Homo sapiens: one gene and its partner. The protein of the gene in region 2 purifies or fractionates together with the protein of the main gene of each other region. This does not show direct contact. Each region holds a gene or a part of one and is shown on either strand. Other genes may lie near its edges. The genes, in order: SNX3 and HEBP1.

Region 1 (2,984 bases), on a different chromosome or scaffold from region 2:
CTATTTTAAAGAGGAGAAGATACAGGATTGAAGTTAGAAATACAATGAAGTTCAATAAAAGCCCAAAATACTAAAAAAACAGGCACAAATATCCAGGTATTTTGTTTGTTTTTGCCTGCTTAAAACCACACTGGGCAACCGGACTATTATTTCAGAATTTAAAAATATCTAATATAGGCCAGGCGTGGTGGCTCATGCTTGTAATCCCAGCACTTTGGGAGACCAAGGCAGGCAGATCACTTGAGGTCAGGAGTTTGAGACCAGCCTGGCCAACATGGCGAAACCCTGTCTCTACTAAAAATACAAAAATAAGCCAGACACGATGGTGCGCAACTATAATCCCAACTACTCAGGTGGCTGAGGCATGAGAATCACTTGAACCTGGGAGGTGGAGGTTTCACTGAGCCGAGACTGCACCACTGCACTCCAGCCTGGGCGACAGAGCAAGACTGTCTCAAAAAAAAAAAAAAAAAAATCTAATATAGTACTGCCTTCTCCAAAAGGAAAACAGATTCACAGACAATGAATATTGAGTGCTACAGTAGATAACCAAGGGCTTTATGTAACCCTTTCTCTCCTGTTTACCACTCATGGATCTTCAAATCACTAGATAAAATTTACAGTGTAAGCTCACATTACCATATTCTGTACGATTTGATTTACTTTTGCTAGTTTAAGGCCAATGCACAATTACAGTGAGGTCTTTCTTGGCATAAATCTTTCTAACACTCTGGCTTTCTATTATTTTACAAAATAGCTATATTTCAAATGGGAATAAAATTAAAAGCTAAAAATATTGGTTTGAGCTTATCAAGAGTTTCTAAAGTAAAAAAGAAACAATCCTAAGTCTTCTTACATTTTCAAAAGAATACATTTTACCATGAAAATTAAAAACATGCACCTTTATACAAGACATGCTAATACCTCCATCTGCAATCAAACAAGATGATTGCAAGTACATTGTAAGTTTTATTGTTCATGCTAGAACATACCTTAAATCAGAAAGAATCATAAGTAAAACTGTATTTTTTAAATGCCGTAATTTTAAATGTAATTTGCATAAATTAACCAAGAAAAACAAATACAAAACGTAGGTCAACACAAAGATGCTCATTTCAATCACTCAAATGTGTTAATATTTATCACATGATATTCAACTTGTCAGATACTTTTACTTTGTTTAAATGATATGAAAAGTTAGGAAATGGCTGAAAGAAAAGGCAACAGTGCAGTTTAGCTTAACATCTAAACTACAAGTAGTCACTTAAAGTAGTCCTACACTTTGAGGAATAGGAAGCACTTACTTGTTTATAAACTGCTCCAGCCCTTGTTTTCTTTCCTCAATAAAATTGTCATCAAATATTCCATCATCTCCTCTAAAAGGAAGCTGACGCAAAAACGCTTTCCCAGGGAGCGGGGGAACTACGACCTAAAATGTGAAGACAGAAACTCCTTGATCATGATGACTGGGTTGTGAAAATTTATAGAGCACAACATGAAGACAAAGCATGTCCTCACTATGACAGCCATCGTCCGGTCAAACTAGTTGAAATATAAAAGAGCAAAAAATACACTGAAAAAAGACCAAATGTTTAGACAAATGCAGAATAGCCCATCAGACAAAAGCTCCTAATTCAAAGGCAGGGCCCATAGCTTATATCATTTTTCTTGGCCTTATCAAAGCCCAGGTATACAAAGAGAACACTCACAACACTGAAATAAAGGTTACCATGCCCCTCAGACACTTGTGATGCCACTTGGAGAAGGCAATGCCTTATTGCAATGGAAACTGCAGAGATCAAAATCAACTCTCAATTAAATGAAGAAACGTTAATGTTCTCTCTGCAACATGGTTAGGTAAGAATTCTGGTTTCAGCCGGGCGTGGTGGCTCATGCCTGTAATCCCAGCACTTTGGGAGGCCGAGGCGGGCAGATCACAGGGTCAGGAGATCGAGACCATCCTGGCTAACACGGTGAAACCCTGTCTCTACTAAAAAATACAAAAAATGAGCCGGGCGTGGTGGCGGGCGCCTGTAGGCCCAACTACTCTGGAGGCTGAGGCAGGAGAATGGCATGAACCCGGGAGGCAGAGCTTGCAGTGAGTGGAGATCACGCCACTGCACTCCAGCTGGGCTACAGAGTGAGACTCCGTCTAGAAAAAAAAAAAAAAAAAGATTTCTGGTTTCTTCAACCTCTTACCATCTGCATACAGTCTTTCCTACTTGTGTTTGAGGTGATGACAAAATACCAATAACTCTAGTTGTCACTATTCTGTTTCCTAAATTAAGAAACAAGTCAACTTTCTCCCAAATGCCCTATCCTGCTGTCTTTTCCCAAAGACCTGTCATTTCTCCCTTCTCGCACTATAGGAAGATCCCAAATTTTCCCCTTCAAAGCCTAACCAAGGGTCAACTCCTGCTGATCTCTCCCTTCTGGGAATTATCTGGAGCTCAAATATTATTCTGGGCCAGGTGCAGTGGCTCACATCTGCAATCCCTGCACTTTGGGAGGCCAAGGCAGGCGGGAGGATTGCTTGAGGCCAGGAATTTGACACAAGCCTGGGCACATGTCTACAAAAATAAAAAAAACTTAGCTGGGTGTGGTGGTGTGAGCCTGTAGTCCCAGCTACTTAGGAGGCGGAAGTGGGATGATCACTTGAGTCCAGGAGTTCAGGACTGGAGTGAACTAAAATGTCGCTGCACTCCAGCCTAGGTGACAGCGAGACCCCGTCTTAAAAAAAAAATAAATTTTTAAAAATGTTATTCTGGAGCTCAAAATACTTGTTTTGATTAAATAGCACCTAGCTATTTCACAGGTTAGTTTGGTTTCTCTACCCTAGCACTACTGAGAATCAGATAAGTTTTGTACTGGGGGGCTTTCTTGTGCATTCTTTTCTTTCTTGAGATGGGGTCTTGCTCTGTCACCCAGGCTGGAGTTCCGTGGTGCGATCATGGCTCGCTGCAGCCTCCCCCAGACTCAGATGA
Region 2 (3,825 bases):
TAAGCCTGTGAATACGTCTTTATCTATAAACGCCTCATCTTGAAAGAAGCTCTCCTCCAGGGCAGTGTTTTATCTCACCCAATGTCAGAGCTCAGTATTCTGAATAAAGAATTTGGTTACCATGGGAACTGAGGAATCTCAAACATACACACACCCCTGATTCCAGAAACACAACAGGAGCTGACTCAAAAGGTCTGGAAGAGTTAGAAAGGGGAAAGATGACACAAGCAATAGTGAAGGCTAGTGGAGGGAAGTGGGGCTTTCGTCCAAGGAAGCAAAAAATCATAATGTGTTATTTTTTAGGGAGTGTCTGGTGCAGGCATGCAGGGAGGAAGAATGACTCTGAGCTTGACCATTCAACTTCGAAACTTTAACATCAATGGATCAGCACACACTGGTGTACGGTCTGCTATGCATGCAGCCCTGTGCTAGGCAAAAGAAGTATCAGACCAGGAACTGACAGCCTCACTGCAACAGGAAGAGAGGCTTCACACAATAAGCGTTTCATTCAACCAGGCTGGACCTGTGCTTATTGAGTTGAACATCACTGAGCACAAAATGCAAGCCAGACACCATAAGAGCTGTAAGGATGATAAAGATGTCTTTCTACCCTCGAGAGCTCTAAGTGTGGTCAGGAGAGAAACACATGCAAAGATTATGCTGGCTGGAAGGAAATGCTGGAATGAAGGTGGAAGGTACATCCAGAATGTTCTGGGGGTGAGGAATAGCGAATGATGGGTTCTGACTTAGAACATGAAGGGAAGGTATTAAGAAAGAGGTGATATTAAGCATTTATTGAGCATCTCTACTTTTTTTGTGTATGTGACCTTGTTTGGAAATACAATATCTCTTCTTGATGCTGGCAATGAATAGTATGACAACCTTCTGTCCTCACAGAGCTTCCAACAAACAGAGGCTGTGGAGGGTTGAGAGGAGCTGGGGACATATGAGCAAAGGTCTGGAAGTGGATGTTGTGTCTGGGGTGGGAGGCATGTTGGGTGGTGGTGGGTGGGACGCTCTGAGATCAGGTTGACATGGGAGTGGTGCTATGTGTGGAGGGTGGTCAGTGCCATCACAGGGCATTTTTACTAGGCTTTACTGCCTGGTCAAACATTTGGCACCCAAAGTTGATCCACCCTCTCCTAGTGGAAATGAAGCATCTCATTACTAACTGGGCTTTTGTTCAAACCCCAACATCTGGTTGGATGGGCCTGAGGCCCCCAACCAGAGCTGAGCAGCCTCTGGGGAGGCTCAGTTTCTGAGCAAAGACAGGCGATGTGATCAGTCCTGTGCCTTAGGCAGGTGGTGATAAAAGGACACTTTAGAAGGGTCAGAAATGGGAGAGCTGGAAGCCAATACCATGGCAATCATTTGTGCAAGAGATGATGAAGACCTGTGTAGATGGAAGGGAAGGAAGGGACAGCTGGGAGCTGACCAGGATGAGCCAATAATTAGATGCAGAAGTGAAGGAGTCAGAATGACATTGGAACAGGGTGGGTAGGAGGAGGGAGGGGACCATCACTAAGACAGAGAACACAGAAAGGGATCTGATTTTGCGTGGAAATCTGCGTTGTGTTTTGGACATGCTGATTTGGGAGATACTTGAGGTGGTGATGCCTCCTGGGAGCTGGAAATATAAGGCTGGTGCTTAGGAGAGAAGGCAGCATGAGACGTGTTGACCCGGGCATCATCTACAGAGAAACAGCCTGAAGCCCTTGCCTGGTGGGAGTTTATAAAAGACTTACGGGATAACTGACAGCTATCAGGGGGAGAGAAAATGGTGATTAATTAGGCTGAGACACAGAATCTTATCATTGGCAAGGCTTTTGGACATGAGGTGGCTTAAATATTAGAGATATTTAATAAATGTTTGTCAAATCAAACCAAACTTCCCACCTAGTGCAAATGTCACATGGCATAAGTGTCACCCATCTATCCAGATGGCACTTGAATTCTTCCAGGGGCAAGGACATTACCTCATGACGTCCATTTTACTGTTAGACACCTAAAATAGTTCCTGGTACAGAGTAAGTGAACAAGAAATCCACTATCTTTTGAATGAAGGAATGAACGAGTGGGTAAATCACATTGTCTCAGGCTCCATGCTGAGTCTGATGGGATGGCAAGACATTCAGGGGAGACAGACAGAGGTTAGGCTGGAAAGTTACCAACACACTGGTGACAGCTGAAGCTATGATGGGGACCAAGATCTTTATGGGACAGAGCAGAGAGAGAGAAGCACAGGAGAGGCAAGGATGAAGCTCTTTTGTTCATGTATCCATTCACCAACTTGTTTTTGTTTTTTATTTAGAGACGGGGTCTCATTATGTTGCCCAGGCTGGTCTCGAACTCCTAAGCTCAGGTGATCCACCTGCCTTGGCCTCCCAAAGTACTAGAATTACAGATGTCAGCCACTGTGATGGCCAATTCAACAGCTTCTTATTGAACACTTGTTATATTCTAGCCAAAGGCCCTGCCCTTGGGAAGCTTGCATTCTAGTGGGGAGAGGGCAATAAATAAATGAGCAGATAGAGATATATAATGCAATTGATTATAAGTGAAGCAAAGCAAAATAAAGCTGGATAAGAGGACAGAAAAGGACAGGGTGCTATTTTCAATAGAACGGCTGGACAAGGCCCCTTTTAATCAAAGTGAGGGGGCAAAGCAGGGTGCTAAGACTGAAAACCCTTGGTCCCAACTTCCTGTGGTTACAAACAGGGTTGAATTATCTAGGAACATGGGCAAACACTGGTCTGTAAATCTCCTAAGTGGTAATGTGGGAACCCCCTAAGAGTTTAGCAGTTGAGCTCTTTCTTCCAAACTTCTCTTTCTCTAGGCGGAACTTCCCAAGCTGCCAATGGCCTCCATTGGGGCCTGGTCATTTAGAGGGAAAAATGACATCAGCAACCTAGGTGCTGACAGCTGACAAAGTTCTTTCAAATGCACAATGAAACCGGCCTTTGCAATCATGCCTTAGAAATCTTATTTTATAGATGAGAAAACTGAGGCTCAGAAAGATTAAACAACTTGCTGCAAGTTACAAAATTCATAATTATTGGAGCTGAGGTTCTAACCCAAGTGTATCTGCAGTAACTTTGACTTTTTTATTGTTAATTCTAATAAAACTTGATCAAATTCTCAAAGGGAGGTGAAGTTAGGAGGAGGAGAATAGGCTAACATTTACTGAGTGTCTACCTCATGTCTAGGATTGAGTAGGTATTTACAGGTATTATCATATTTTATCCTCACAACACCATAAAAGCTAGGTACTCATGCCCATCTTACAGATGAGGAAACTGAGGTACAGTGAGGCTGGCAATATACCAAAGGTCCTATGGCCACTGAATGATGAACTGGGTTGGAGCATAGGTTACCCTGAAAATAAACTCCTGGTTTCCAACTTTTTCCTTTATATCTAGACATTTCATTTAAACCGTGAAAGTTTCATTAAGACCATCAAACTTCTCCTGCTGTTGGTCCCTATTGAGAACCTGGTGCTGAAATGAGCTGAAAAGGCCAAACTCTAACTTAAGTGCATAGAGAAAGGACAGTAGTCTGGAATGTTGCTGCTGGTCTAAGTGTGAGGATAATTCTATTGCCTCTTGTGAATACTAAACATATTCTGATAGTGCTATTTTTTTTCACAGCATTCTATTCATCTAAAAGCACCGGTAATTAACGATGCTAATAAATGTATAATCCCTTTGTAAACATCTCTTCACAAGGTCATAAAGAAGGAAGACTGAATGAAGGACGCCAGGCTTTCATTTTAGAATTAATTTTGTCATTGAATGCACTCACTGCATTATTTGATAGAGTACTTTT

What was found.
Region 1: the proteins of HEBP1 (region 2) and SNX3 fractionate together in Homo sapiens (co-fractionation; one large-scale study listed by BioGRID). This does not show direct contact.

The regions. Positions count from the first base shown.
Region 1 is NC_000006.12:108,213,194-108,216,177, forward strand, and holds part of SNX3 (sorting nexin-3), read right to left. Parts: intron 1,430-2,984; coding exon 1,305-1,429; intron 1-1,304. UniProt on the Homo sapiens protein: Phosphoinositide-binding protein required for multivesicular body formation. Specifically binds phosphatidylinositol 3-phosphate (PtdIns(P3)).
Region 2 is NC_000012.12:12,979,697-12,983,521, forward strand, and holds part of HEBP1 (heme-binding protein 1), read right to left. Parts: exon of another isoform or gene 3,648-3,825; intron 867-3,647; exon of another isoform or gene 304-866; intron 193-303; exon of another isoform or gene 141-192; intron 1-140.